2 linked regions of the Homo sapiens genome follow. The protein of the gene in region 1 interacts with the protein of each later gene in a biochemical or structural test. Each region holds a gene or a part of one and is shown in the gene's direction. Other genes may lie near its edges.

Evidence for each region.
Region 2: the proteins of TESC (region 1) and SLC9A1 form a complex in vitro, tested with the Homo sapiens proteins (4 studies listed by BioGRID and IntAct, with this or other methods).

The regions. Positions count from the first base shown.
Region 1 is NC_000012.12:117,091,119-117,107,634, reverse strand, and holds the start of TESC (calcineurin B homologous protein 3), read left to right. Parts: upstream 1-8,218; 5' UTR 8,219-8,352; coding exon 8,353-8,410; intron 8,411-13,946; exon of another isoform or gene 13,947-13,961; coding exon of another isoform or gene 13,962-13,983; intron 13,984-16,516. UniProt on the Homo sapiens protein: Functions as an integral cofactor in cell pH regulation by controlling plasma membrane-type Na(+)/H(+) exchange activity. Promotes the maturation, transport, cell surface stability and exchange activity of SLC9A1/NHE1 at the plasma membrane.
Region 2 is NC_000001.11:27,102,732-27,118,256, reverse strand, and holds part of SLC9A1 (sodium/hydrogen exchanger 1), read left to right. Parts: intron 1-3,970; coding exon 3,971-4,431; intron 4,432-8,479; coding exon 8,480-8,730; intron 8,731-10,391; coding exon 10,392-10,609; intron 10,610-12,169; coding exon 12,170-12,372; intron 12,373-14,944; coding exon 14,945-15,034; intron 15,035-15,513; coding exon 15,514-15,525. UniProt on the Homo sapiens protein: Electroneutral Na(+) /H(+) antiporter that extrudes Na(+) in exchange for external protons driven by the inward sodium ion chemical gradient, protecting cells from acidification that occurs from metabolism.

The DNA.
Region 1 (16,516 bases):
CGAACTTCTGGACTCAAGCCATCTGCCCTCCTCAGCCCCGCAAAGTGTTGGGATTACAGGCACGAGTCACCGAGCCCAGCCTGCCTTCCTCTTTCACATATAAAGACTCTTGTGATTATATTGGGCCCACCCAGATAATCCAGGGTAATCTCCCCCATCTCAGGGTCAGCTGATTAGCAACCTTCATTCCATCTGCTCCTTTAATTCCCTCTTGCCATGTAACCTAACATATTCACCCATTCCAGGGATTAGGACGTGGGCGTCTTTGGGGGCCACATTCTGCCTACCACACAGTCCTCTCTAATGGTGTAGGATGCCTCTCTCCAAATCACAAATGATGAATAAATAAAAGCATCTCTACCCAGGGCTGTTGCATTTCTACCTGAGAAGAGGTCCTAGCAGAGTCTTCCAAATGCTGATTATTCCTGTCTTCTTCAACAGCTCCCACCCCCCGGCCCCTGCCCAGCCTCCCCTACCAGGCTCGATGTAAAGTGATGGTGAAGTGAAAACAGATTTGGGGCCCTTGCCACCTCTTTCTGGTTGGTAACTTTGTTTCTTGGACAACAATGCAGAGTTTGAAGCCCATCCAGGGACAACATTCCATCTGCCCCCTGCAAGTTCCGGTAATTGGTCACTATTTATAATTATATAAATAATAGAAAAACAAGCTTAAGCTGCCCTCCCCAAAAACCCAGTCTCCTCCTATTTTTAGGCAGCCAGCCTGCCCTCCTGTAGGGCAGCGTCCCTCTGAGGTCTGGGCCACTCAGCTCCAGCCATGGGCTGAAGCAATGATGCTGGTGACAGCAGTGATTCTGCCACCCAGGAAGGGGCCAGGGGTGATTTTCTAACTCAAGGTTGAGTTTAAAGCTCTCAGAGAATGAAGAGAAGGAACTATTCTAAAGCCCCCTTGCTGCGATCATTCTCCCAAGACCAAATCTGATTCTGTAAGAACTGGGAGCTGGACAGAGATTCGAGTCTGAGTTTCATTGATGTGTCTCACTGGGAGTCACGGGACCGGGAGAGACGGGAGGCTAGAAGAGACAGGAGAGTCAGGCTGGCTATAAAGTCCTTGATGTCCAACTACCACCCCCCTGCCAAAAAAAAAGGAACAGACAGTTGGGAAGGGTGTGCTCTATGCCAGCCATTTCACCCTTGTTCCGACTCTTCAAAGATGGGATTGTGGGGCCTATTATACCGATGAAGACATTGAGGTTTGGAGTTGCAATATAACCAACCCAATGGTACACAGCCAGGGAGTGGGCAGAGCCAGGATTCAACTCAGATCTGAATCGATCTCCTATAGCATGCCCACGGCTATGGGGGAAGATCAGGGTGCCTCGGGAAAAAAGATTGTTCAAAAGAAAATCAAAACGATAACTTTAATTTCAAAATGCAAATTGCGGGTGAATCTCTGATCCCATTGACACGAAAACCAAGAGACCACGACATATGAAACCAGCCTAAGGAGCCTGAATGATCTTATGAGAAAAAGCGTCTGTGTCAGAGCCAAATCACTGACGCAGGCCACCTGTGCGGTCTCCCTCTCCCTGGACCTACTTTATGAGAGCTTCACCACACATTGCTTGTTTGATGTGGTTTAGGTGCGGTCTTCGCTAAGAGGCCAAGCAAGATGATGTAATCACCTGATGAGTTCCTCCTGCCCACTGCACAGACAAAACCAATTCACTGAGACGACGGCATTGCAATAAAGAAAGAGCTTAATTGACACAAGGTTGGCCACTCCTGTCTCAAATCAAATCAATCTGAAAATTTGGAGGCTAGGGTTTTTAAAGGATACTTTGGTGGGCAGGGGGCTGGGGAATGGGGGCTGCTGATTGGTTGGGGATGCAATCACAGGGTTGTGGAAATTGGTCCTTGTGCACCAAGTCCACTTCTGGGCGGGCTCCCCAGGACCGGCTGAGCCAAGAGTTGAAGGTCTGGGTGGGGCCATCCGGTCATCAGAAATGCAGGTAAAGACATCTCAAAAGGCCAATCTTAGGTTCCACAATAGTGAATTGGGACAGTTGCAAATCTTGTATCCTCTGGAATAATGGCTGGTTGTCATTTAACTATGCCTGCGTCTTAGCGAAATTTAGGCCCCTCTCATCCTCCTAACCTGGTGGCCTTTCTTTTCTTTTCATTTTTTTTTAAGAAACAGGTTCTTACTCTGTCCCCCAGGCAGGAATGCAGTGGTGTGATCGTGGCTCACTGCAGCTTAAAACTCCTGGGCTCAAGTGATCCTCCCACTTCAGCCTCCTGAGTAGCTGGGACCAAAGGCAAATGACATCATGCACTGCTAATTTTTTTTTTTTTTTTTTTTTGTAGAGGCAGGGTCTCACTAAGTTGCCCAGGCTAGTCTTGAACTCCTGGCTCAAACGATCCTCCCACCCCAGCCTCTCAAAGTGCTGGGATTACAAGCTTAAGCCACTGTGGCCGGCCACCTGGTAGCCTTTCATTAGTTTTATGAAGGCGGCTTAGTTTTGGGGAAGGGCTATTCTCATTTAAACTATAAATTAAATTTCTCCCAAAGTTAGCTCGGCTCAAGTCCAGGAATGACCAAGGGCATTTTGAAAGTTAGAGGCAAGATGAGGGTTGGTGAGATCAGATCACTCTCGGTGTCATAACTTTCTGTTATAATTTTTGCAAAGGCGGGCTCAATGGTACTTGGAGTCCCCATAAATCTCTTGGTCAGTGGCCCAAATGCTAAGACAAATGTCGTGTTACTCCTAGAACATTACCATGCCTTGGGAGTTACCCCAAGCTAAACCATTAGAAGGGGCAGGTGAATTACAGAAACTGCTATTCAGACACCTTCGAGTCTATGCTCTGATTCTGGTTTACAATCCTTTGGGAACATCTTGGTTTTTCTATCAATAAAATGCGGATGTGCTGGGTGCCTCTCCTCCGGGCCCCTGCAGTGACTGGTACCGGCTAGCATACCATGATGTTCTGTTCACATCTCTTTCCTTGCAGACTTTGGGATCCCTGAGGTCAGGGACTGTCTCCTTCACTGTAGTGTCCAAACTCCTGGCACTCAATAGTGAATGCATGAACAAATAAACGAACATATGACAGTCAACTGGGTAGTAGTTTCCTGGTCTTGACTGGCTTGCAAGAGCAAATGGTTAAATATTCAGGGATTTTAAGCTGGGCATGGTGGCGCATGCCTGTATTTGCAGCTACCTGGAAAGCTGAGGCAGGAGGATCCTCTGAGCCCAGGAGTTCGACGCTAGCCTGAGCAACATAGTGAGACCCCATATCTAAAAAAACAAAATTCAGGGATTTTGCAAGCCTATTGTTAAATTATCAGTAACTTGAAATTGACTATGGCACGAGTATTTACACACAGAAATTGGCAACTGCTACAGATTAGGACTTCTGCCCCTCCTGCCCTTTTCAGAGAACTTGTTTACCAGCTCACCACTGGCTAGCACTTACGGTGTCAGGCAGTTTTAAGCACCTTCTCTATATGAATCTGCATTTAACCCTTACAATGTTACATATATGAATCTGCATTTAACCCTCACAATCACCTTACATGTATGAATCACCTTACATATATGAATCTGCATTTAACCCTCACAATGTTACATATATGAATCTGCATTTAACCTTCACAGTCACCTTACATGTATGATCACCTTACATATATGAATCTGCATTTAACCTTCACAATCACCTTACATGTATGAATCACCTTACATATATGAATCTGCATTTAACCCTCACAATCACCTTACATGTATGAATCACCTGACATATATGAATCTGCATTTAACCTTCACAATCACCTTACATGTATGAATCACCTTACATATATGAATCTGCATTTAACCCTCACAATCACCTTACATGTATGAATCACCTTACATATATGAATCTGCATTTAACCCTCACAATCACCTTACATGTATGAATCACCTTACATATATGAATCTGTATTTAACCGTCACAATCACCTTACATGTATGAATCACCTTACATATATGAATCTGCATTTAACCCTCACAATCACCTTACATGTATGAATCACCTGACATATATGAATCTGCATTTAACCCTCACAATGTTACATATATGAATCTGCATTTAACCTTCACAGTCACCTTACATGTATGATCACCTTACATATATGAATCTGCATTTAACCTTCACAATCACCTTACATGTGTGAATCACCTTACATATATGAATCTGCATTTAACCCTCACAATCACCTTACATGTATGAATCACCTGACATATATGAATCTGCATTTAACCTTCACAATCACCTTACATGTATGAATCACCTTACATATATGAATCTGCATTTAACCCTCACAATCACCTTACATGTATGAATCACCTTACATATATGAATCTGCATTTAACCCTCACAATCACCTTACATGTATGAATCACCTTACATATATGAATCTGTATTTAACCTTCACAATCACCTTACATGTATGAATCACCTTACATATATGAATCTGCATTTAACCCTCACAATCACCTTACATGTATGAATCACCTTACATATATGAATCTGCATTTAACCTTCACAATCACCTCACATGTATGAATCACCTTACATATATGAATCTGCATTTAACCCTCACAATGTAATTGCCACTTTGCAGATGGGGAAACTGAGGATGAGAGAGGTTAACTTGCCCAAGTATGGTTTCATAGCCCTCCATGACAGGAAGGTGGGAGAGCCAAATGAAGACCATCCTGGCCATCTCTGGGCTCAGCTGCTCTTTGCGGCTTGACAGGGACCAGCTATATGAATTGCGGTCACCACTTTTAATCAGCTCCTCCAGGAGGAGGTCCTCTGGGAGAAAAGACGCAGTTGCCTGGTGACTAAAGTGTTTCCCAGTCCTCCAAAAGTCATGCTGTGTTATTGGGGGGGATAAAGCTTGCCCCCCAGCAGGGTGCCCCTCTTCCAGGGCTCTAGACAAAAAATCCAATGAGCCCTGGCCAGACCCCATGCAAAGCTGCAGACCTCATTCTTGCTTCTTGCTTTGTTGACGCCTGCAGAGCCATTGGTAGGTTTGAATGAAAGCCATGACGTCCCGGAACAGGCAGCAGCTGGCTTTGCGTGGAGGGCGCCTTGCGGTGTGCACATCATTGCCAGAGGAGGGCAGAGCCCGGGCAGATGGTGGGTGCCACTGCAGGGGCCCCCACAGAGACATCTGTCCACCAAGAATTTGGCTTTGCTGTATCCCTTCGGGACCACAGTTGGGGACAGTCCTGGACTTCCTGAAGCTCAGCTTTAGGGATGACAGAGTCTCTCCAGGGGCCCATTCTGGTTTGAACATTCCATCTCTCTGTGGGCTCCATCACGTCAGCCCTTGTTTACCCATCTGCTTTGTCACTGCCCGTGTGTCTGTCTCCTCACCCCACCAGGAGTTCTTCAGGAGCGAAGGTGGCATCTTATTCCTGGCTGTGGCTCCAGGACCTAGCAAGAGCCCTGAACATAGTAGGTGCTCAATAAATGTGCAATGAATAAATGATTGAACGAATGCATAAATTGTGCCTTGGTTTTTTCTGCCTTCGTGCTGCTCCAAGGATCTCCTGATTACTTCTCCAAGCCCTGCTATTAGGAATAAATCCTCCTCTGTCATCCTCAGCAAGACTTCCCGCCTCCCAGCTCCCTGCTGACTGGTGGTGGTGGCTTGTTTGGCTGTGGACCCAGGAGAGGGGATGAGGACTCTGAGAAGGCCTCCCTGAGGATGTGAGTTTCCACTGAGGTCTGAAGAGGAAGCGGGAGTGCAAGAGAGTTTCAGGCAAAAGGAACAAGTACAAGTGCTTGTCTAGTAGCTAACAGCGGTCAGTGGGTCAGGGTAGACAGGTGATCGGGTAGGACAGACTCCCTTCATACTAGATACCAGGGGCTTCCTTGAGATCACCAAGGGACAATGTGAAGCCATGTGCCCTTCTCCTTGTCCCAGGGCTTTTGTCCCCACCAGAGCAACTGTGCCAAGCAGGAGGGGCTGATGTCCAGAGAATGCCACTTCCTATCCCCCACATCAGACAGTTCCATCATTTAATCCTTGACTAGTTTAATATAATAAAATTCCAGGAACTGACATTTTAAGTTGGAATAAAATTGCTCCCAGCAGCTGTACGTAATGGGCTGGCTCAGCGGCTCAGAACTCCCAGGGGTATTGGGGATCCTTTCCTGATCCCAGAGGCCTGCCTGTTTCCAGAATCCTTTAAACCAAAATGCAGTCCCTAGGTCAGCTGTCCTGCCGGCTCAGATCAGCTGATGACCCACAGCCAACATCTTTCCACCTTGATCAGGTCTTGCACTGCCCTCTGGAGAGTGCTTTAAAATGCAGATTGCAGGTGCTGCCTTAGCTCTACGAGTGCAGACAGGCAGTGGAAGAGGAAGCTGGATTTTCCATTTTAGAGACAGGGTCTCGTTCTGTTGCCTGGGCTGGAGTGCAGTGGTGCAATCAGAGCTCACTGCAGCCTCTAACTCCTGAGCTCAAGCGATCCTTCTGCCTCATCCTCCCAAGTAGCTGGGACTTCAGACGCACACCATTGTGCCCAGCTCATTTTTAAAAAGTTTTAATTGCTGGTAGAGCTGGGGTCTTGCTATGTTGCCCAGGCTGGTCTCAAACTCCTGGGCTCAATCCTCCTGTCTCAGCCTCCCAAAGTGGTGAGATTACAGACATGAGCCACTGCACCTGGCCAAAAGCTGGATTTGCAACCAGGAAGGGGCTGATTCTGATGCTCTAGGAGGTTTTAGGACCAACTCCCACCCTCTACCTCGGGCTCTGAAAGTCACCTCCTGCCCCTGGAAAGGGCTGTGACCCTTGGCTTGAGCCTGTAGTCTGCAGGAATGAACAGCAGTTCTCAGCAGCCCCCTTCCCAGCAGCCTGTGAAACTGATGGAGGTAGGTCCACCCGAGTCCCCTCTGTGGGCACCGAAAAACTCCTGCCCCCTACCCTGTCCCCCTTCCTCCCCAACATTTATCATCGAGACTAACGTTCAGAACAGACCTGATACCTGACGGTCATTGATGGTGGTGTCACTAAGCACTGCAGAGCCTTCAGGAGAGCCTTGACCTTGATGTTCTGCCCTGGCTGTGTGCCTCTCCAGGGGACAAGATTCCATAGCGCCCACCAGCCTCTGTGGCCATGTGCTGTGTCCACGCCAGGCCCTCTGGTGGACATCTCATTAACTTATCCTTATTTTAAGGAGGAGGAATCACATTACACAGGCAACAGCATCGGCCCCAGTCACCCCAACTGGATGGAGAGCCAACCCCTCAAGCCATCTTAACCCAGAACTTCCCTAATGGGCATGGGGACCACCGGCATTGCCTTCTCTCCAGCAGTTTGTCCCAAATGCAGCCTCCTGGGCCCACTTCTGCAGTTGTTTTTTTGTTTGTTTGTTTTTTGAGACAGAGTCTTGCTCTGTCGCCCAGGCTGGAGTGCAGTGGCAAGATCTCAGCTCACTGCAACCTCTGCCTCCCAGGTGCAAGTGATTCTCCTGCCTCAGCCTCCGGAGTAGCTGGGATTACAGGCATGTGCCACCGCGCCTGGCTAATTTTTGTGTTTTTAGTAGAGACGGGGTTTCACCATGTTGGCCAGGCTGGTCTCGAACTCATGAGCTCAAGTGATCCGCCCGCCTTGGCCTCCCAAAGTGCTGGGATTACAGGCGTGAGCCATGCGCCCAGCCCGCTCCTGCAGTTTGAGGTGCCTCTCAGCCACCGGGCTGTGCAGGGCCCACACGGGCCGCCACGTGGGTGTGTTCACCTCAGAAGGTGCTGGGGCTTTCCTGGAAAAAACCAAAGCGCATGGTGCATTTTCAAATAGGATTATTATTACTGTTGTTCTCCATAGAGCTATTTCATGCTCGCTGACTTCCTTGACTATCTCAGTGGAGTTTCCCTCCTAAGATCTGGAGGATGTAAGGTGGGATGGGTTGGGAGTGGGCATAGCACCTCCCAGGGGTCCCACCCCTCCTACCCACGCCCCCAAATTTGCTCACACCTGCTTCCTTCCAGATCCAGCAGGTGTGCGGAAGGGACGAGGTACGTGAGCACTGCTGCACGAACGGGGACTCCAGAGCGGTGGGCTCCGGGGTCCCCTTCCCGGCGGTTTCCGGGCCGGGGCGGGGCGGGGCGCTCCCCTAGCCGCGCAGTGCGCGAAACCGGCGTGCGCTAGGACCGCGGCGCGCCGCCCTCCGCCGTTATATGAGGCCCCGCTCCGGCCCCACGCGGAACCCGCGGCTCCGAGCCTTCGCCGGCGTCCCGACCCGAGGCCGGACCCGAGGCCAGTCCCGCCGCTGCGCAGCCGAAGCCAGTGCGGGGCCTGAGAGGGACGCGCGCCCCGGGGCCCCCGCCGCGGGCACCATGGGCGCTGCCCACTCCGCGTCTGAGGAGGTGCGGGAGCTCGAGGGCAAGACCGGCTGTGAGTACCCGCGGGGGGCGGCGCGGGGACCGGGGCGGGACCTCCGAACGGCCACTGTTGGGGACCCCGGCCCGCCGCCGCGCTGTGTGACCTTGGGCCAGTGGCGGGCCCTCTCTGCGCCTCAGTCTCCTCCTCTTTCAAATGGGTCCCCGCTGGCCACCTCGCGGGCTGCGGCGAGGAGCTCCGCGGCGATGCTCAGTGCCGCAGCCGCTCAGCTTCGGACTGGCCCGGGAACTCCCTGGCCGGGGGACTGCGGACCGGGGAGGGAGCGGGGCCCAGGCTTCCCAAGCGCAGGGCAGGTGCCTCAGGCCGGGCGGGCAAGTCCCTCAGGCACCCCCGCTGGCGCGCGCGCCCCACACCTGAGAGTCGTTTGCATTCGTGAGCGCGAGAGCGGAAAGTTTTGAAGTCGGCGGACCTGGGTGGGAACAGGTCTCCGACGCTCCCCGGCCGGGTGACCTTAGTCGGGAGAGCCGGCGCCCGGCGCCTGCTTTCGTCCTCGCATCTGTAAAATGGGTTCAGGCAGCCTCATCCCCGCGGGTGGCTGGGAGACTTAGCGAGGCAGCGGCCGCAGAGCACTTTGCCCGGAGCCCAGCGTCCTCCCCTGAGTTCGCTGAGTCTCCCGGGACCAGCAAAGGCTGCGCGCCCCGCATCGGCCCGGAGGCGGGGAGCCCTGGGAGGCCTGGCCGAGCTGCCCGCAGGGAAATGGCGGAGAAAGCGCTTCTCTGCCCGAGTTCAGCCGGGCTGGGGACTTGGCCCTGGGTCCTGAACTCGGCATGGCCAGTTCTGCCTCTGGCTGTGGACCAGGGTGTGGACTGGAGACCGCGGGGGCCAGGTGTGTGGGCAAACCGGCTTTGGCGAGCGACAGACCGGCTGTGAACCCTGCCAGCTGCACTTCCTGGCTGTGTGACCTTGGGCTAGTCACTTTACCTCTCTGATTCTCAGCTTTCCTTCTCTGTTGTAAGAGTTCTCCTAGTACCTGGTAGACGCTCAGGAAATGGGAGCTGCAGATATTTTGGGAAAGAGCTAGCTCCTGGCACCTGCTTCAAGTGCAGAGAACCAGCGTCCAGTATTGATCACCAAGAGAGGGTGGCCCAGCTGTTTGTGTGTCAGCTGAAAAGCAACCCCTCTTGACCCCCAATCTAAATACCCCTTTCCAGGAGAACTGGATGAAAATTGCAGAAAACCATTAATAACTGGTGTGTGTATGCACGCACTTATACGTCTATATCTGTATCTCTGTGTGTGTAGAGATATAGAAATATCCAACTAAAGAAGTAAAAGGTGTGGCTCAGCATATATAATATGGTACCCTTTTTTCTGTTTTTTAAAAAAGGATCCTTTGAGCTGGAGCCGCAAAGTAAAAAGAAATAGAAAATGTAAAAAGAGGGGAAAATAAGAGTATACATTTGTAATTGCTATATTTGCAGACTGGAAGAATCCACCAGAAAGTACGAATGGATGCTTGGTGGGGGTTGCGGGGGGAGTGGAAGGGATGAAGGGAGAGTGAGCTTTTTCTCCGTAAACGTTTTTATATGTTCATTTTGAACTATGTTGGATATTTTACTTACTCAAAAAGTTTTATGCACTTCAATCCGAAGACTAATATGAGAGAGAAAGGAGGGATTCCTCTAGCTCTTACTTGCTTGGGTCTCCTCTGCTTTTATTATTTCTCATGTGCCCTCTCCTCGCCTCCCACTGCTTTGAATCTGGATGGGTGTCGATGGGCATTCTCTGTGGCTGGGATCCCCGTTGGAAGGGTGGGCTCTCCGGCAGCCCACGGGGCACTCGGGAATTCCACCTGGTTGTGGGTTTGACAGGGAGGAGGGGCTGCAGAGCATGCTGGGAGTCTTGTCAGTTTCCTGGGTCCAGCCTCCCACTGGGATGACAGATGCTGTGTTCCTGCTCTGTAACCTTCCTAGATGTAGCTGCAGCGGCTTCCCTTCTTGCTGCCCAGAGCTCAGACTTCATAACCCAAGGGAGATGGAGAGGGTCGGAGAGGAGGTTCTGAGGTTAGACTAGAGTAGGCAGGTGGAACTTTAGGTAGGTGGAAAGTTGCCCCCAGTCCTCCGAAAGGGACTGCGTAATTCGGTCACTTTTGCCCACTTAGCAAATATTTATAGACCAGGGGCTGGGGATTTAGAGATGACTCGGAGAGGCTGCTGTTCCTGGAGGGGGACACACAGTAAACAAAACGCCCGACAGGTGTTAAACTGTGAACGAGGCATAGCAGGGTGGCATGAGAATGGAGCTTTAGGGTGGATCCGGAGGTCCTCCCTGAGGAGGTGATAATGGAACAGAAATCCAAGTAAGAATGAGCCAGGGGTGTGCAAATCAGTGGAAAGGGCATCTCGGGCCGAGGGGACGTCGAATGCAGAGGCCCTGTGGCAGGGACAAGCCAGCAACAGTAAATAAGAATGCATGAGATGAGGACACAGCTGTCGTCAGGGCTCAGGCTGTGGCAGGAGCCTGGCTTCAGGGGCCTTGCCAGGTACCTTGGGCAAGTCACTTATGCTCTCTGAGCCTCAGTTTTATCTACTATAAAATGGGCATAGTCATAGTACCTCCCTTGAAGTTGTTGGGAAGGATTGAGTTAATATACATGAAGTAGTTAGACCAAACACATGTACATGGTTTGTTATTGACCATGCTTTAAACACTCTTGTATGTCCTGGTCGCTCCGAGCCATAGCTGAGAGTTGAGTCTTGGTCCCACCTCTCTGAGCTACATGACCTTGGGCAAGTCATCTTACTTCTCTGAGCCTCAGTACCCCCACCTGGATCCTGAAGTCATTGTGTGGATTTGATAAGGTTACGTGCGAGACGATCGGCTTGGCATGGGAACGTCAGCTCCCAGAGACCCAGTGGGTCAGGCAGGGCCCTTCCTCCAAGGCCATTCCCTTGGGAATCTTCCCTGAGAAAAAGGGAGAAAAGCCTCAGGGTAAGGTGGCCAGAGGACAGACTGAGCCCACAGGGCTGCTGACTCCCCCGCCTCCCTGAGGACCAAGATGACCCCTGACTTTCTGGGGAGGAATCAGCTTGGTCCCTTTCTGAGAACACCATCCAGAAAGGACCAGAAGGTCAGGCTGAGGCTGGTGATAATGAACATAATTCCCCAAGCACCTGCTGAGCATCAGGCTCCACGCTGGTGCTCTCTGCATAACACTCTTTATAGTAATGATCCCCCAGGAAGGCAGTGTTAGGGCCATTTTACAGGTGAGGAAACTGAGGCTTAGAGAGGTAAACCAGCTTGCCTGCAGTCCCACAGCTGCTAAGTGGAGGAGTTGGAGATCATGGGATCCCCAAGCCTACTTTCTTTTTTTACAGTTTTTTTTAATTTTTAGTTTTTGAGGCAGGGTCTTGCTCTCTCACCCAGGCTGGAGTGCAAGGGGCATGATCAAGCTCACTGCAACCTCGAACTCCTGGGCTCCAGCGATCCTCCCACCTCAGCCTTCCCAGTAGCTATGACTGCAGGTGTGCGCCACCACACCAGCTAATTTTAAATTTTTCTGTAGAGACAGGGGTCTTGCCATGTTGATCAGACTAGTCTCAAATTCCTGGCCTCAAAGTGATCCTCCCACTTCAGCCTCTTGAAAGCGCTGGAGTTACAGGCATGAGCCACCATGCCTGGCCCCAAGACTGCTTTCTTACTGCCAGCATGCTTTCACTGTGTGTAGCTGCCACTTGAATTTCTAGGAACCAAGAAGGGATAGGAAAAGACTCCCGTATTTTTTCTCACCTTCAGGCCTTTGCACAAAAGCTGTTCCTCTGCCTGGAGCACTGTTTTCATTTGATGTGTACAATCAGGTGTTTACGTACGGGAGCCTTTCTCTGTCTCCACCCAGGGTAAGGTCTAGGCCGGGCGTGGTGGCTCACGCCTATAATCCCAGCACTTTGGGAGGCCAAGGCAGGTAGATCATGAGGTCAGGAGTTCAAGACCAGCCTGGCCAAGATAGTGAAACCCTGTCTCTACTAAAACTACAAAAATTAGCTGTGCGCGGTGGCAGACGCCTGTAATCCCAGCTACTCGGGAGGCTGAGGTCGGAGAATCGCTTGAACCTGGGTGGCGGAGGTTGCGGTGAGCTGAGAGCATGCCACTGTACTCCAGCCTGGGCGACAGAGTGAACTCCATCTCACAAAAAACAAAAACAAGAAAAAACAAACTCAAACCTTTCCTCTTAACCTTGTCTCTCTCTCTTTTTTTTTTTTTTTGAGATGAATTTTCACTCTTGTTGCCCAAGCTGGAGTGCAGTGGCGCGATCTCAGCTCACTGAAACCTCTGCCTCCTGGGTTCAAGCAATTCTCCTGCCTCAGCCTCGTGAGTAGCTGGGATTACAGGTGCCCGCCACCATGCTCGGCTAATTTTTGTATTTTTAGTAGAGACAGGGTTTCACCATGTCGGCCAGGCTGGTCTGAAACTCCTGACCTTAAGTGATCCGCCTGCCTCTGCCTCCCAAAGTGCTGGGATTACAGGTGTGAGCCACCGCGCACAGCGTTAACCCTGTCTCTTTATGAAACGAATGCTCATTATTGTTCAGGGGTTGGCTTACCTGCTGCTCCCATCCAGAAAGCCATCTCTCCATCCGACCTTTAAGGGTTAAACACCCATCCTCAGCGCTCCTGGAGCCCGCAATAGCAGGCATCACACCATGTTATACTTGTCAACTCTGTCACCTGCCACCCCTTCGAAACTTGGAGCTCCCTAGAGCAGAAAGAACGTGTCTTGTTCACCTTTGTATGCACTTGGTGGTTCAGTGAGAGCATAAGAGGCTCACGTTAAAGGGGCACAGTCCCTGGGGACTTTAAAACTCAAGGTGTATTGTTCAGGAACAGGCAGCCACTGGAAAACCCAGTGCCACCCTCACCAGCTGTCCTCGGCTGCCAACCCTCCCAGCATCTCCCCAGCCCCACCAAAAATATGCCTGAGCAGCAGCTTGCCACACAGGGCATCATCAGGTCTGCGTGCCCACCTTCCTTCTCCCTGCCTGTTAGAGTCTCATTGATTGATTTAAACCGGAAACGAGTATTCCCAGGAATCTTTTCTGAGCCAAGAAGGCTCACATCTAGATTGTTAAGATTCATATGAAAAGCCCGAGCGAAGGCGTCCCGGGGGTGTGATTGAGCTCACCTTCCCCACGCACCCGTGGTGACAGCAGCCAAGTGGTGTCTGGTGTGTGGACCGAGGTACAAAGTGGGACCTGACGGAGAGAAGGGCTTCTTGGGAATTATTCACCTGAGTCAGTTGTCCTTCACCACCTTGAGCTGGCCCCACTTCCTGTCCCCCCCATCCGTGTCTGCTCCTGGAGTTGGAAAGGAAATAATAAGACAGAGGATTCTGGGAAAGGTGGAGGGTCTGTTTTTTCCTTCAGGCTCCAAAACAGCTCTTCAGGCATGTCTATGTTGATGCCAAGAAGCTGCCAGAAGGAAAAGGAAAAAAAAAAAAAAAATCTCCAGACCTAGAGTTCAGACCTCATGATGGTAAGAGCTAATGTTTCTCGGGCGCGTGGCATCTGCCACACGTTCAGCTGAGCCAGGCAGCGTATCCGCAGTAGCTGATGGAATCCTCCCAGGAACACGGTTGGTTTCCCATTTTACAGATGCAGACATTGAGGCTCAAGAGAGGAGGTGCCTGCCCAAGGCCACAGGCATCATAATGAGAAGTAGAGTCGCAGGCTGGTGCGGTGGCTCATGCTTGTAATCCCAGCACTTTGGGAGGCCAAGGCAGGGGGTTCGCCTGAGCCCAGGAGTTGGTGCCACTGCACTCCAGCTTGGGTGACAGTGCGAGACTGTCTCCAAAGAAAAAAAGAGAGTCGGATTCCATTCCTGGTCTAATCTCATTTGGAGAAGGAGCTAGAGATGGCAGGGAGGACTGGCGTAGCCAAGCGTGGCTGGTGGGGGTGGCGCTGGTTTCTCCACTGCGTTCTCGCCCCTGGGTAATACTTCTTGGTTCTAAAGTCTTTAAGTGGCCTCAGACGGTGGCCTCGGCTCATTCACCAATTGCCATATTCTGCTACCAGGGTGGACCAGATGCGGTCCCTGCCCTCCAGAAGCTCAGGGGTTCCAGGGGGACAGGGGAGCACCCCAACAACTGTAGCATAGCGGGAGGAAGGGTCTGATGGGCCAGGGTGGACCAGCCAGCTCCACACTGTTCTGTCGTCCGCCAAAGCTTGGTAAGCTGAACAGCCAACCAGCCAGTCCCCCGTGCCTTTTCTCTTCCTCTGGGCTAGGTTGTGGCTTTTCCCCTGGCATCTTCAGGGAGTCCATGAACCCCATGAAATAGGATGTGGAATTGTCTGAGTGCCTCTGGGGAGGGCCCTCTGCCCTTGTTAGGGTCTCTGAACAGTGAAGTGTTTTCCATTGTATGGAAATCATGCCTCAGTAAGAAAATGATTCAAACAATTACTTTTATTGATTGTTTAAAATTAATTTGTTTTTGAGATGGCCCTGCTCTGTTGCCCAGGCTGGAGCATAGTGGTGCAATCACAGTTCACTGCAGCCTCTAACTCCAAGGCTCAAGTGATCCTCCCACCTCAGGCTCCCTCCTCAGACAGTGGCTCCTCAGCAGAGGAGGAATGAATGTGTCCGTGAAACCAGGGGGAAGGACCAGTCCTGTATGCTGAGCTCTGGGGCGGGGGGAGACCCTGGCCTGGAGTCATCCACAAAGTGGTCCAGATCATGGGACCCCCCCAGCCTCTGGAACCCTTTCTGCCTTGACTGGATGGGGGCTTCCAGGCCTCCCCTGCCCTCCTCTCTGGGGGCTCACAGGGGAAACTTGCAGGAGAATGCCCGCTGTGGAAGCTTCCCACAGGGCTGGGGATCAACCAAAGGCACCTGCCTGCTCTAGCCCATGCTGGTATTTTTCATTCTGTTCACCTGGGCCCCATCATCTCACCATCTGTCGCAGCCACAGAGCGGGACCCTGGAGGATGGCGTTCCATGTGCACTGAGCTCGGTGCTGGAGCCGTCCTGTGCCACTTCGCTCAGATGTCTCATCCAGGCTGTGTCCTTCTTTGAGCCACCAGTTCCGCTCCTTAAAAAACGCAGCCAGCTGTGAATGAGGTGACAGCTGCTCTTTCTTGAGCACTTGTCAATCATCTGATCTGCCGAAAAGCCCTTTGAGGGTGGGACTATTGCTGCCAGTTTATAGATGGGCAAACTGAGGTTTGGACAGAGGAAATGACTGCCCAAGATCACTTAGTTGCTGGGTAGGGAATCCAGACTCAAAACCAGGCCTTCTAGTGGGATTTGCCAAGTGCAGTGCCGGGAGAAACCGCCTCTCCCGCATGCCGAGAACCCCACATGCTCTGGACTGAGACTCTGAGAGTCGGCACATCTGTGTGATCTGGGGGAGGCCATGCTGTTACCCCACAACCTCGTCAGTAGAGTTCCACACATTGTTTACCAAGTCGGCAAGGGGAGAACTGAACCTTGAGGCAGATAGGATTGGTTCTGGGTGATGTGGAAAGTTCTGGAATCTAGGTGGGTTGCCCCCAGGGAGAACAAGCTCAGTAGTGGGCAGTGGGAGGGGAGTGGGGACCACGGCTGGGAGGAAGAGGCAGGAGGGTGCCGCCCCCTCTGTTTCCTAGGGTCTCACTGGGTGGCTCAGGTCTGTTTCAAAAGAATTTGTGTTTTCTCTGTGCAAGCCACTGGCAGTCCTCTCCAAGACGTCCTCGCTCCGCAGATTGGTGGTAATTAGATCCCCGCTGCATCTTTCTTTCTTGCCTCCCCTACTGCCATCCTGGCAGGATATTTTTTTGTGAGTTAATGGTCTCCAGAATGTATCGTGGAAATTTAATCAACTCTCAGACATGCCATACGGCCCAGTAAGACAAACAGAATAACCTGGGTGTTGATAAGATGCTCTTCCCTTTGCAAAGCACTTTAGGATCTGTTATCTCGAGCTGAGGGAATGAGGTGTTTTCAGCTCAGAAGGGCTCACAGTTCTGGGAAGAAAACTCAGGGCCTCTTTTGTTCTTTTGTCCATGCTGGTGTGACTGTACAGGGTGAGGGCCTGGGCACCCCTGGTCCTGCCAGCCTTCCTGTTGCCTGCTCCAGCTTAATTATTAATTTATAAAACCAGAAGGTCGAGTGGGTGATTTCCGCTGGTGGT
Region 2 (15,525 bases), on another chromosome or scaffold:
CGGCCCGGCCCTCCCCTCAGGCCCAGAGAGCCCATCAGGGCCTAGAGCTCCTTCAGCTCACTGAGCGCCAGAGACAAAACAGGAAAGCCAGGGAAACCAGCTCCAGGAACATGGCTCCAGCCCCAGGTACTCTGGAGCTGGCTGAAGGAGAAGGAGGTCGCTGTGCTGTAGTCAGGAGGCCCGGGACCCAGTCCTGGTTGGCCTGGCTGAGTGCATGCAGCCTCCTCTCAGAGCTCGTTTTTCTTGTGTTCAATAGGAATGCCAGCTCTCTGTTCACCTGGTCATAGAAGCTCCAAGGGCTGGAATAGCATGGCCCTCCCCATCAGCTGCTCACGGAGGTTCAGAGTCTGAGTCACCTCAATGTTCCCAGTGTCCCATATGGCCTGGCTCAGAGAAAATACCGAGCTTTGACTAAAGAATTAATTAGCGCTCTCTGCTACCGGTTTGAGACACCTAAGCTAGAATAGAGGTCCTCCCTTAGACACTAGGGGAGTGGCATAACCTTGCTGAGCCTCAGCTTTGTCTTCTGCAAAATGGAGGCAATACCTATCCCAAGGGCTGTGGTGAGGACTGAATGAGATGGTGCGTGCCAGGCTCCCAGCACAGTTCTGGCTCATGGGACGCCCTCAGACCTGAGGAGCCGTCTTCATGTTGCTGTTCTTGGCTTGTTTCACATGCCTGCCCCCTCCCCAGGCAGGAGCTGTGGCCAACTCTTCTCTGGGTCTCCCAGGCACTGTCTGGCGATTTATGGGGCCAGGAAAGCTCTGTGGATTGGGTTGATGGCACAGAGTGAGGGTAGGAGGCATTTTTAGAGCCCGACCCCTTAGGTGGAGGTGGAAGCCATCATCTGCCTACCCTGGACTATCTCTTTAGACTCTGCCTTCTCTTAAGGCAGCTCTTGGTGCTAACGCCAGGACAGGGGCAGGGAGGCTGTGGAGGGGGGTCAGCATGCAGCTGGCTGGAGCTGGACTTCCGGCCTTGGGAAGGTGCTTTCTGGCCCCTGCCTGTAGGAGCTCTGCTCCCCTAAATCTTCATCCTGCTTATCTCCGCTGCGCTGTGCCTGTCTCCCCTCCAGCACACTGCAGGTCTTTGGGGTCTGATGCCATTGTCTTGTCTCAGCTGCTTCTGCCTGGGTTGTCTGACTGATCTCGGTGGGTGCCAGGAAGAGAGAGAGGAACCTGGGAGATGACTGTGGATTGAAGGTTATGAGAGAGGGAAGCACCAGAAGATTCCTGCCCTAACCTGAGCAGACAGGTGGTGGTCAGGGAATGCTTCCTGAAGGAGGAGGCAGGCAGAGGATATGGTGTCAGCCACATATGGTGGGGGTAGAGGTAGAGGAATGATTTCTAGAGAGAGGAACTAGACTAGGTGAAGATTGGCAGGCAAAAGAGGATGTGGCTCATATGGGGCAATTGCAAGGAATTTGGCAAGGCTGAAACCTAAGAGTTGACAGTGGGGAGAATGGGACATGAGGCAAGAGCAGATGACAGAGGCAGTGCTGAAAATGTGGGCTTTATCCTCTACAGCAAGAGAGACTTGGGTCCAACATGACTAGCCCTTCCCAGTGGACCAGCCAGCTACACACTGGATGTTGACTGGTGGACAGTACAAAGACTGGGGGACTTTTCAGCAAAAGGGGTGATTTTGGAATTATTTTCCCTTTTATTGATGTGGGAAGTAGATGAACAAAAAGTGACTTTTGGTCATGTCTATTTTGAAATCAGGAGAATGCACATGGTGCCTTCGAGGTCCTCTTGGCCTAGGATGGAGACATCTTTTTTTCCCAATGTGTTTTGAGTGTCTTCAGGGTGCTTGGCACTGTGCCAGGATTCTGGGCCTGGATAGTGTTCAGTGTGTGAACTTTTTTTTTTCAAGATGGAGTCTTGCTCTGTTGCCCAGGCTGGAGTGCAGTGGAGTGATCTTGGCTGGAGCTCAGTGGCGTGATCTCGGCTCACTGCAACTTCTACCTCCTGTGTTCAAGCAATTCTCCTGTCTCAGCCTCCCAAGTAGCTGGGAATACAAGCACCCACCACCACGCCTGGCCAATTTTTATATTTTTAGTAGAGACAGGGTTTCACCATATTGGTCAGGCTGGTCTTGAATTCCTGACCTCAGGTGATCCACCCACCTCGGCCTCCCAAAGTGCTGGGATTACAGGCGTGAGCTACCGTGCCCAGCCAGCAGTGTGAACTTTGACTTGTCACCGTACTAGCACTGCCCAGATTCCTACCTGAGAGTAGGAAGGGCTTTGGGCATGGAGAGGGAAGTTCCTCCTCTGTCCCAAGGATCTCAAGAGTAAGTAATGAGAGCAGAGGCCTGGCCAGGCATGCAGGTTATCGGAAATCTTGGGTGATGTCCCAGCCCTGTGTATTTTCAAGTCAGCTGATATTTGTTGAGCACTTCTTGTGTCCTAGCCCTGGGTGTATAATGATAAGCAGTTATGGGATCTGCCTGCACAGAGCTTGCAAGATAGGGAAGGGGAGGAGAGAGAGCTTTGCTTTCTTCTTTCTTTTTTTTTTTTGAGGCTGGGCTCAAGTGATCTTCCTGCCTCGGCCCTCCTAACTAGCTGAGACTACAGGTGCATACCATGCCCAGCTATTTTTTTTAAGTGGAGATGAGGTCTCCTATGTTGTACAAGCTGGTGTCAAATTATTGGCCTCAAGTGTTCCTCCCACCTCAGCCTCCTAAAATGCTGGGATACAGGCATGAGCCACCATGCCAGGCCAGAGAGAGCTTTCCTCTTGAGCAAAGGGACAAACCCTCTTGGCTATGCCAACCCTGGGAGCATAGTACCCAACATACAACTAGATGCTCAGATTTTTTTCCACCTACTTTCCCACCCCAAAACAAAACAAACAAGTAAACCACTCACAGGAGCTCAGGGTTCTCTGGCCATACCTGATATTGAGAGAGGCCCTCTCAACGGGGATTTTTGCTACTCCTCAGCTCTGGGTTTGAAGCCTTAAGGTGGACTACAGCAGAGCGGCCTGTTGCTGGCCAGGACACGGCCTGGGGAGATGGCTGGTGGGTCCCAGGCAGAGGGGTGTGTGAGGAGGCCTTGATGGGAGGGAAGGATAGGAGAGCTTGAATTACAGAACTGTGCAGTTTGATGGGAACTGGGGCATCAGACCTGTGTTCTATTCTAGTTCTGCTCCCCACTTGCTGTGTGACTTTGGGCAAGTCCCTTCCCTTTTCTGAGCCTTAGTTGCCCCATCTTTAAAGTGGGTGGCATTGAGCTAGAAGCGGGATAGCAAATAGATTTTATCTCACCTGCCAAAGCTGGTTGCCACTGACATCCTTGAGCCGTGTCTTGAGCAGCTGCCTGGACTCAGTAGGAAAGCCTACTGTTTTGCAGGTTTGCAGACCCCAGGCCTTATTATCCCCAAGTTCCTTCCCACGCTGGTATTCTTAGATTCTTCTGTGCTTTCTTCTGTCTCCTATGCCACTCCCCACCAGCTGGTTGTCTGCCTTCTGCTTAAACAGCTCCGTGATAGGGAACTACCATCTTCCCTCAGACAGAATTGTTAGATTGTTATTCCTCAGGTTGAGCTCAGATCTGCCTCCCTGAACTTGTGCCTGGAATAATGCCTTGGGTTCAGGCGTAGGTGATGCCCGTAGGTACTTGGCACGTCAGTAATCAATTTATAATTTCTGCCTTCTGGAAGCATATAGAACTGCTGCTTTCTAACATTTTATGACAGTGACAGAGATAGCATGTATATATCCTTTGAAAAAAGTGCTTTAAAAACACTGTCACTTGGTTTATGATGGCAAACCTGTGAAGCTAGCATTGTCCCTTCCATTTTACAGGCGAGGAAGCGGAGGCTCAGAGAGTTAACAGAGCAGCCCTCTGAGACCCAGCCTGTGCACCTCTCACCAACTGCGCTCCTCATCCCCGGCCCATCCCCAACCTTCTATTCTCCTGGCTCCTCCGAAAGCCCATGGCCTCCCGTTCTCTCGCCCTCCGCAGGTTTCCATGTGATCCCCACTATCTCAAGCATCGTCCCGGAGAGCTGCCTGCTGATCGTGGTGGGGCTGCTGGTGGGGGGCCTGATCAAGGGTGTAGGCGAGACACCCCCCTTCCTGCAGTCCGACGTCTTCTTCCTCTTCCTGCTGCCGCCCATCATCCTGGATGCGGGCTACTTCCTGCCACTGCGGCAGTTCACAGAAAACCTGGGCACCATCCTGATCTTTGCCGTGGTGGGCACGCTGTGGAACGCCTTCTTCCTGGGCGGCCTCATGTACGCCGTGTGCCTGGTGGGCGGTGAGCAGATCAACAACATCGGCCTCCTGGACAACCTGCTCTTCGGCAGCATCATCTCGGCCGTGGACCCCGTGGCGGTTCTGGCTGTCTTTGAGGAAATTCACATCAATGAGCTGCTGCACATCCTTGTTTTTGGGGAGTCCTTGCTCAATGACGCCGTCACTGTGGTGAGGAGGCCAGGGGCCATGCCCATGTCCAAACGGTACAAACCCAAATCCAGGCCCACCAGTGAATCCCTCATCCACCCGCTAATAACAGTAATAAAAACAGCTGAGGCACATTCCCGCTTCCCGTATGCCAGGCACCATGCTGAGCCCTTCGGCATGGATTATCTCATTTAAGTCCTCATGGCTGCCTTAAGAGGTGCTTATTATTCTCATTTTCCAGGGGAGACACAGGCCCAAAGAAGTTAAATAACCTGTTGGAGTATGAACCAGTTTGTGATTGAACCAGGTCTGACTGACTCCAGGGCCTAAGCTCTTGGTTTTGCTAGGTTATATGCTCCCTCCTTGACTTGACTTGCTTTTTGTTTTTTAAGAGACAGGGTCTTGCCCTGTCTTCTAGGCTGGTGAACTGGTACGGTCATAACTCACTGCAGCCTCAAATACCTGGGCCTGAGATCCTCCTGCCTCAGCCTTCCGAGTGGCTAGGACTACAGGCATGCACCACCACACCCGGCTAATTTTTTAAATTTTTTGTGGAGATGGGGTTTGACCATGTTGCCCAGGCTGGTCTTGAACTCTTGGCCTCAAACCATCCTCCTGCCTCGGCCTCCCAAAGTGCTGAGATTACAGACCTAAGCCAACAAGCCTGGCCCTTCTCTTGCATTTTGATGTGAGCTTGGGCAAATTACTTACACTCTCTGTGCCTCAGTTCCCTCTTCACAGACCATATCATCTGTGAGGGGCCTTTCAGCTCTCATGTTGGCTATATCTTAAGTTAGAATTCGGTTTGTGCACAGTTTTTGGGCGGAGATTATGGAAAGGGGCCTTGTCTCCAAAACATCTAGAAGGTGATAAGTAAAAGAAGTTGGCCACTTGCTTGCTGTGTGACCTTAAGCAAATGCTATACCTCTGTGGCCCTCACCTTTTTTTTTTTTTTTTTTTTTTGAGATGGAGTCTTGCTCTGTCTCCCAGACAGGAGTGCAGTGACGCAAGCTCAGCTCACTGCAACCTCCGCCTCCCAGGTTCAAGCAATTCTCCTGCCTCAGCCTCCCAAGTAGCTGGGATTACAGGCGTGTGTCACCATGCCCAGCTAATTTTTGTGTTTTTAGTAGAGACTGGGTTTCGCCATGTTGGCCAGGCTAATCTCGAACTCCTGACCTCAGGTGATCCGCCCACCTCAGCCTCCCAAAGTGCTGGGATTACAGGCATGAGCCACTGCGCCCAGCCAGCCTCACCTTTGATAGCTGCAAAGTGGCAGAGGATTAGTGCTTTCCTCCAGGGTCTGCACGTGGTAGCACCATATACACCTGCACATGCCCTTCCTCCCAGCTGGTTTCCTTGGGAAACAGATGTGTGCATGTGCATGCTCACGTTGTGTTGTGAGAACACTCCCACCCCCTCCTGAGCTGTCCCGCTCAGAGCAGCTGCACACACAGGAAAGCTCAAGGGCACATGTGCATTCCCAGGCCATGACTCCCTCCTCTGCAGCCCCAGCCTTCAGGAAGCAGCACCTCAGAGTAGAGACAGACTGTGGTGTTCAGCTGCTGGCAGCCTCAGCTTCCTGTTCCTCCCACGCCTCCTCATGGGGCTGGGTAGAATAGCCTGACCTGAGCAGGCAGGCCTCCATCCTGGCTTCCTCTAGCACTAGCTCTTGCCCAGGGTTACCACATGAGCCTGAGTTTCCCCATCTGTGACACAGGGATTGCAGTACTCAGCCTGTCATCCTCCCAGGCTTCTTACAGGATTACTTACATTAGTGAGTCATACTCACTAATGTCTGTGAAGCCAGTGAGTGCCAAAGATAAAGCCCTCTCCAGTGGGATCTGGGTGTTGGGGTTCAGGTGAGCACTGCTGTGGAGCTTGGGGCATGGTTGCATCAAGCAGGTAACAGACCCAGCCATTTGTGGACCCATGGTCATGTCTCCCAAAGGCAGTGGCAGCGGTGGTAGTGATTGCTGGTGTTCATTGGGTGCTTCCTGTCTGAATGTGTATTGCCTCATTTTTATTTATTTATTTAGAGACAGAGTCTCCTGTCACACAGACAGTGTCACTCAGGAGTGCAGTAGCACAATCATAGCTCACTGCACCCTCAAACTCCTCAAATGATCATCCCCTCTTAGCCTCCCAAGTAGCTGGGACTGCAGGTGCTGGCCATCACACCCAGCTAATTTATTTATTTATTTATTTATTTATTTTGTAGATATGGGGTCTCATTATGTTGCCTGGGCTGGTCTCAAGCTCCCGGGCACAAGCGATGCTCCCTCTTTGGCCTCCCAAAGTGCTGAGATTACAGGCGTGAGCCACTGTGTCTGGCCTATGTTGCCTCATTTAATCTATACAGTAACTCCATGAGGTTGACACAGTTATATTCCAGTTTTTTTGCGATGAGGAAACTGAGGAACGGAGAGGTTACATAAGCCTGATATATGATATAGCTGAGGTTCAAATCCGTAGTCTGAGTCCAAAGCCCAAGTGCTTACCACTGTGTTACTCTGTTTCTCTATAGTTCCAGGGGTAATAGCACCAGGCCAGAAAGGAGGACTTTCCCCTCTGTGCCGACTCCATGGGCCCATGTGGTAGACCATGAGGACCCATGAATCCCCTCAGGCCAGGAATGAGTTTAGCCCACGGCTGAGTACGCACCTGCTAAGAGGCTGTCTGCCGCTGGAGCCCTGTCCTATCCCCCAGACAGCTGGGGCCAGGCCGCACCAGGCCTGGCCAGTGCTCTGCATCTCCCCTTGCTGCCTGGCCCAAGTCAGGTCTTTCTGGAGCTCTTGGCATAGGTGTGAGTGCCCCATTTCCCAGAGAGTAAAGCCAGAGGCTGACCCTGAGCTGCCTGGTCTCAGGTCTGTGCCCTAGACAGGTCACTCCTCACGGTCCATTCCTCCTGCTCCAGGTCCTGGGGGCTTTGGAGGGTTCCCTGTCATGGATCCTCACGTCCTTCCCTCCCTTCCCCCAGGCCTGGAAACTCCCTGCTCCTTCCTGGCAGAGCTGTCTAGGACAGACTTGAGTAGGCCAGGCAGCTCAGGGACCTAGCAATAGGAGGGGCAGATCCTCAAAGCTGAGCCTGCTGGGGAGGCCTCAGCCATGGCTGTCAGGGAATAAGTTCTGGGCCCAGTTCTTCTGCTCCTGGGCTGGGGGCCCCCTGGCGTGTTGTTTTACCACTGTGAGCCTCGGTTTAGCAAAGGAGCATCCTTGACCCACCTGCCTCGCATGGTTGTTGAGTGTCGACTCAGATAAAGACTATCAAAGGGCTTTACAGTGTATGAAGTGCCACTTAAACATCTGATGGTAGTGTTGCAATGACCATCTATTTCCCAGTCCAGGAGACAGGGATGCCTTAGCCTCTAATTCCATAGCATCTGAACTTGGCTGTTCATTGCAACCCCTGGGGTGCTTGTTACATAGAGATTTCTTGGCCCTATCCCAGAGAGTCCAAGTCCAGTATGGCCTGAACATGTGTATTTTCAGAAAGCTCCAGAGGTTAAGAAATGACATTCTAGTTCATTGTGTGAACGTCCCTTTTTTGTGCTGAAGGAGGGACTGAAACCCAGTGATGGGCATGACGTGCCCAAGGTCAGGCAGTGAGAGGCAGACTTGATAGCACCAGATGTGGCTAACACTGCATCAGGTAAGGCTCCGAGCACTTGATTCGCTGATTTAGTCCTCACAGCAGTCCTAAGATTTGGTATTATTATCCTCATTTTATAGACAGGAAAACTGAAACACAGGGAGATGAATTTGCTTCCTGTACACAACTCAGGAGTGGCAGAGCCAGGATTCCAGTCCAGGCAGTTTGGCTTCAGGGTCTTCACAGAGCTTCCCAGGGCCCACCCTTCACCAGTGGGGCACGTGGCTGGCCCAGAGCAAGCCCCTCAGCCCCAGGCTGAGGTTTTGAGCACCTGCTTGGCACTAGGGTTTCTCTGCTACCGTGTGGCCTCTTCTTGTGGCCATGGTTAACGGAGGGGACAGGATTGCCCTGGGTGGACCCCAGGGAACCGTGGGGCCAGGGCCCTCTCCTCCCACCCACCAGCCTGCACACCCTCCCCAGGTCCTGTATCACCTCTTTGAGGAGTTTGCCAACTACGAACACGTGGGCATCGTGGACATCTTCCTCGGCTTCCTGAGCTTCTTCGTGGTGGCCCTGGGCGGGGTGCTTGTGGGCGTGGTCTACGGGGTCATCGCAGCCTTCACCTCCCGATTTACCTCCCACATCCGGGTCATCGAGCCGCTCTTCGTCTTCCTCTACAGCTACATGGCCTACTTGTCAGCCGAGCTCTTCCACCTGTCAGGCATCATGGCGTGAGTCTGCGTGCAGCAGGCAGTGGGCTTGGCGGGGTGGGGGCGGGGGCTGCCAGCTTGGATTCCCCAGGCTCGTAGGTTCACGGAGCTCCCAGGGCCCAGCCTTGAGCTCCAGGGATGAGACATGAACTCCAGGCTCCAGACCTGCTTGGTAGCCATTTAAATGGCCAAGGGCATCAGTGGCTTCCTAGAAGAGGAGCACTTCTGCAGCGCCCCCTGGGGTCCAGGAATCGGGAGAGGGCATTTCAGGCTATGAGCAGATGAAGCAAGAATGACCTGCATGAAGGCAAGCCCAGGGTATAGGAGAGCAGAGCCTTGGAAGCCACTAAGCTTCAGGTTGAGGAAAGCCACAGCCCTGCTACTTCATTGTCTCAAAGGGAGTCCCCTCAGCAGCCCCAGTAGGAGGCTCACCAGGCCTGAGTCCTGGCGGTCCTGAGGTCTCCACCGGGTCTGGAAATGGGGAGAATGGGATGTGGGGAGGCAGTGAGGGGTGAAGGTGTTCCAGTGCCGAGCAAGGCAGAACTGGGGTTCAGAGCCCCTGGCTCCCAGGAGCAGAGCCCGGGTGTGAGCACTGGGCTGGGAGGACTCCGAGCTCCAAGCAGCTGCTTGGAACAAAGCTCCCTGTGGAGACCCCTGTGTAATGGCAGATGCCACGCTTGAGGGGAATGAACCCAGGAGACCATGGGTCTGTGTCATTGACTCCTATTGGGTCAAGAGGCAGTGTGGCCTTGGGGCAAAGGTGCAGGCTTTGGAGTTGGACACTGTGGTTTGTGTGTCTTGGCTTTGCTGCCTGCAGGCAGCGTGACAGGGGAGAGGTGACTATTTCTCTTAGAGTCAGATCTCTCATTTTTTTATTTGAGACGGGGTCCCACTCTTGTCACCCAGGCTGGAATGCAGTGGCACGATCTCAGCTCATTGCAGCCTCTGAGTTCGAGATTCTCCCACTTCAACCTCTCAATTAGGTGGGATTACAGGTGCCCACCACCACACCTGGCTAATTTTTGTATTTTTAGAAGAGACTGCATTTCACTACATTGGCCAAGCTGGTCTCGAATACCTGGCCTCAAGTGATCCGCCTTTGTCGGCCTCCCAAAGTGCTGGGATTACAGGCGTGAGCCACCGTGCCCAGCCAAGATCACTCATTTTAAAAATGGAGGAATAGGGCCGGGCATGCGCTCGTCGCCTGTAATCCCAGCACTTTGGGAGGCCAAGGCGGGTGGATTACAAGGTCAGGAGTTCAAGACCAGCCTGGCCAAGATGGTGAAACCCCGTCTCTACTAAAAATACAAAAAAATTAGCCAGGCGTGGTGGCGGGCACCTGTATTCCCAGCCACTCGGGAGGCTGAGGCAGAGAATTGCTTGAACCCGGGAGGCGGAGGTTGCAGTGAGCCAAGATCGCGCCACTGCTCTCCAGCCTGGGTGACAGAGTGAGACTCGTCTCAAAAAAAAAAAAAAAAAAAAAAATGGAGGAATACACCGTGTCTATAGGGTTGATGTGAGGATGAGTGGCAAGAGGGTGTAAAGCACACAGCGGGCCCCTGGCCCATAGAGGAGCTTGGGACATGGGCACCTTGGTCGTGGCCCCATTGCCCCTGGCAGTGGAGGGGCTCGAGCAGGTGCAGCTCGACACGGAGCCCTGACCCCGCTCTTTCCTGCTCCAGGCTCATAGCCTCAGGAGTGGTGATGCGCCCCTATGTGGAGGCCAACATCTCCCACAAGTCCCACACCACCATCAAATACTTCCTGAAGATGTGGAGCAGCGTCAGCGAGACCCTCATCTTCATCTTCCTCGGCGTCTCCACGGTGGCCGGCTCCCACCACTGGAACTGGACCTTCGTCATCAGCACCCTGCTCTTCTGCCTCATCGCCCGCGTGCTGGGTGAGGGCCAGGGCTGGGGCGGGGTGGGGGTTGTGGTGTGGGGTGTGTGTGGGGGGTGGTGGGCTGTGGTGCTGTGTGTGTGGTGTGTGCAGTGCACTATGTGGAAGGGCCAGGCTATGTGGTGTGTGCATGTGGTGCAGTGTATAAGTATTGTGTGGAGGGGCTGGGCTGTGGTGTGTGTGTGTATGCGTATTGCGTGTGTGGTGTGTGTAGTGCATTGTAGGGGGGCTGGATGTGTGTATGGTGTGTGTGTAGTGTGTGGAGGGGTTGGGGGTGTGTGTGTGTAGTATGTTGTGTGGAGGGCTTTGTATATATGTGTGTGTTGTGTGGAGGGATTGGGCTGTGGTGCAGTGTGTGTATAGTTGTGTGGAGGGGCTGGGTGTATATGTGGAAGGGCTGGGTGTGTGTGTAGGGGTTGGGTGTGTGTAGAGGGGCTGGGTGTGTGTGTGTGTGTGTGGAGGGGCTGTGAGGGTGTGGGTGTGTGTGGAGGGGCTGTGAGGGTGTGGGTGTGTGTGTGTAGAGGGCCTGGGTGTGTGTGTGTGTGTGTGGAGGGGCTGGGGGTATATGTGTGATGCAGTTTGTGGTGGAGGTTTCCTGGTTGGCTCCTGCCTGCTCCCAGCACAGCTAGACAGGAGGGACTTCCCATTTCCATGATGGGCCCTTCAGCAGGGAGAAGCCTGTGTCACAGCAAGGCTGTGGTCTCTGGGGACAGAGTCAGGCTGTGTCAAAGTGAGGGGGCCCTGAGACTCTGAGCCTGTGGCTGTGGCTGTCCTGATGAGGGGCCTGAGGCCCACAGAACCCAGGTCTGTGACTCTGAGCTGAGTGCTCTCTGCACTGTCTCAAGACAGGTGACGTGAGCATGTGCCGAATCGCATGCAGAGCCACGTGCAGTCCTCCAAACCTATGCAGCAGGCCGGGGCACACGTGGGGACCAGGCCCCAGGTGCATGGGTTCCACTCACATGTGCCCCACATGCCTCACCCCAGTGCCTCAGTCGCCTCCTCCCTGGATCTCTCACTTCCTCTCTGAGGGTTAGGTCCATGTCCCCAAGCCTGGCAGGACCTCACATTTATTTGGTGCACTTTTGAAATCCCCTTTATTCCTGAGCCTCATCCTCCAGGGATTCTGGTTCTGTGGGTGGAGGTTGGGCCCAGCCCTCTGCATTTTTTATGCTTTATTATGGAAAATTTCAAGTACTTAGAAAAGTAGAGAGAATAGGATCATGACCCCCCACACACCCATCACATTTAACAAGTATTGACCTGTGACCCATCTTGTTTGATCTTTTCTCCCTCTTCCTGCCCCCAGCCCTCCAGCCACTGGAGGCCTCCATGATGTCTCTAAAGCACATCCAGGTTGGGGAAGTCCTTTAAGGATCCACCCAGCTCTTGGATTGAGGAGTTCAGAGCACTCTGGGCTGAGGGACCCAGGAATTGAGTGAGCGGGGTGGGCTTCGTAATGGAGACTTCCTGGATGCACAGAGAAATCACTGATGCAGAATCCAGGAGGGACTGGGGACAGCCCGACCTGACCCTCATCACCCCCTGCCTTCCCCTGCAGGGGTGCTGGGCCTGACCTGGTTCATCAACAAGTTCCGTATCGTGAAGCTGACCCCCAAGGACCAGTTCATCATCGCCTATGGGGGCCTGCGAGGGGCCATCGCCTTCTCTCTGGGCTACCTCCTGGACAAGAAGCACTTCCCCATGTGTGACCTGTTCCTCACTGCCATCATCACTGTCATCTTCTTCACCGTCTTTGTGCAGGTGCTGGGCCAGGGCAGGGCAGGCCCTTGCCTTGGGGACCCTCACAGGCTGTTCCCGTGGAAAGAGAGGAAAGCGTGTGATTTGAAATGCGATTCTAGTCCCAGCTCCACCACTAACTTGCTGTGTGACCTTGGGCGAGCCACTCCCCCTTTCTGGGCCTCAGTTTCTTCAATCGTAAAGTGAGAATTGTGATGAGTCATTGCAGAGTGACTGATCAGAATGTAAAGGAACCAGAATGCTGCCCAACTTAATTTGGAACTCATAGAGCATTAAGAGAAGTGGGTACTGGCCGGGCACGGTGACTCAACGCCTGTAATCCCAGCACTTTGGGAGGCTGAGGGGGTGGATCACCTGAGGTCAGGAGTTTGAGACCAGCCTGACTAACATGGTGAAACCCCGTCTCTACTAAAAATACAAAATTAGTGGGCATGGTGATGCATACCTGTAATTCCAGCTACTTGGGAGGCTGAGGCAGGAGAATCACTTGAACCCAGGAGGTGGAGGTTGCAGTGAGCTGAGATTGCGCCATTGCACTCCAGCCTGGGTAACAAGAGTGAAATTCCATCTCAAAAAAAAAGAAAAAGAGAGAGAAGTGGGTACAGTCAACAGGCCCAAGATCTCTCTTTGCTACTAACTCATTGTAGGGCTTTAGGCAAGAGATTTCATATCTTAGGGTCTCAGTTTCTGCATCTGTAAAATGGGAATAATATCACAGCATGGGGAACTGGAAAGGGCTATGAGCCAGGCAGCAGGAGGCCTGGAGTCAGCCCTAGCTCTGTGTTGGTGTCCCTCTGACCCTAAGAAAGACCCCCACTCTTCTCTGGGTCTCAGTTCCCATCTGTAAAGTGAGGGAACCAGGCGAGATGATTCCCAAGAATCCTTCCAGCCTGCTGCTCAGTGATTTCTGTACATTTAAACGGCTCAGGCTTAGCTGACAGCCACTCTCCTGCCTAAGGTCCCCAAGGAAGCCCAGCCTGTGATGGTGCAAATTGCTCTGCCTTACCTGACTTTGCCTGACCTTGGGCAAATAAGAAACACTCTGTCTGAGCCTCCATTTCTTTACCATCCTTTCTGTCTTTTCTGGGCACTGATACTCAAAAAGCCCTAGATGGGATACATCTTTGCATTCTCTTGAGAAAAAAAAATAGGGGAAACCTGGGGCTGGGCTTATTTTCTGTCCTTTAAAGGGAGAGGGGACCCTGGTGCAGTGGCTCACGCCTATGATCCCAGGACTTTGGGAGGCCGAGGCAGGAGGATCCCTTGAGCCCAGTAGTTCAAGAGCAGCCTAGGCAACATGGCAACCTTGTCTCTACAAAAAATAAAAAAAAAATTAGTGGGTATGGTGGTACACACCTGTAAGTCCCAGGTACTTGAGAAGCTGAGGTGGGAGGATAGCTTGAGCCCAGGAGATTGAGGCAGCTGTGAGCTGTGATTGAGCCTGTGTGACTCCTCCAGCCTGTGTGACAGAGTGAGACTCTCTCTCGAGTTAAGAAAAAGGAGAGAGGCTGGGCGCGGTGGCTCATGCCTGTAATCCCAGCACTTTGGGAGGCCGAGGCAGGCGGATCGCCTGAGGTCAGGAGTTCCAGACCAGCCTGGCCAACATGGTGAAACCCTGTTTCTACTAAAAATACAAAAATTAGCTGGGCGTGGTGGCAGCCGCCTGTAATCCCAGCTACTTGGGAGGCTGAGGCAGGAGAATCACTTGAACCCGGGAGGTGGAGGTTGCAGTGAGCTGAAATCGCACCACTGCACTCCAGCCTGGGTGACAGAGCAAGACTCCATCTCAAAAAAAAAAAAAAAAAAAAAAAGAGGAGGAGGCTGCCACTTTTGTCCTCTTGCCCTGCTTCCATCTTCAAAAAATTTTTTTTACCTTGATTTTGCAGTTGTATGTGCTAATGATTTTCCAAGCCCATTTTCATTGAAGGCAACATTGGGGAGGGGGCCTCCCTCCAGAGCCAGCCTGCCTGGGTTTAAATCATGGCTTTACTGCTTCTCTGGGATCTTAGAAAGCTGCTTATCCTCTCTGAGCCTCAGTTTCTGCATCTGTTAAATAGAGACAATGGAAGGACCTCCCTCTTAGTGTTGCGGATATTGGAGAGCTGATTGATGCTAGAACACTTCCAAGCACGTGTGTTGGTCACATGGCAGGTGTGCAGTTCCATCTGCTGCTGCTGTTATTACTCGGTCCTCCTCACAGTCCTGGTGGGGAGGCAGTGCAGAGGTAGTTTTCCCTGTGTGTGGGGCCTGACTTCCATGGGGTTGCAGAGCAAGTCTGTGGTGCAGTCCACATCTGAACCCAGGCTGTCTGCTGCCTGGCCCAGGCCAGATGACCAGTGTGGGGGTCATTTGGCAGTGAAACCTCTGACCGTGTCTCCAGGAAGAAGCAGGCCTTAAGGACCTGTCTTTAGATAAGTGCTGGGAGGTGGGAGAGTTCTCACACCCTTGGGTCCTGGGAGAGAGCAGAGCAGAGAGGGCATCCTAGCCTTGGGGGCCTGGGGTGAGGGAGGGAGGCTCTGTGGCCTCCCTGCCTGGGTAGCAGAACTGGAGTGCCTGACACCTGCCTGCCCCCCAGGGCATGACCATTCGGCCCCTGGTAGACCTGTTGGCTGTGAAGAAAAAGCAAGAGACGAAGCGCTCCATCAACGAAGAGATCCACACACAGGTACTGGAGTGCGGGCTGGGCCCTTGGTTGCAGAAGGAGGAACAGGGAGATAGGGAGCAGCTGGGCCTCAAGTCTCTGCCCCCCATCAGCCCCTTCTCCCTGTGCCAGTGCCCAGGGGCTCCCTCTGCCCCAGGAGGCCGCCAGGGTCTAGCCATAGGAAGGTGTGGTGTGAGCAGCTGGGAGCCTGAGGAGGGGGCATCATGCCATCTCTGCCTCCATTTGAAACCTATCCCAGGCATAGGTCCCAGGTGGGATTAGAGAAGGGGGCTCAGCCGGACACAGGCAAGGCTTCGAGATACCCAGAGTCAGGGCCGCTGGGTTCGATGAGTGGAGTGTGGGCGCCACCTCCTGGCTGCTCATGGAACCACAGGGCTGGACCCAGCAGGGCTGCAGCTACGGGAGGGAGTGGGGCTAGTCAGAGGTCTTGGTAGGGAAGGCGCCCCACAGCGAGGCTTGACTTGGCCCTGGGCCCCTTTCAGTTCCTGGACCAC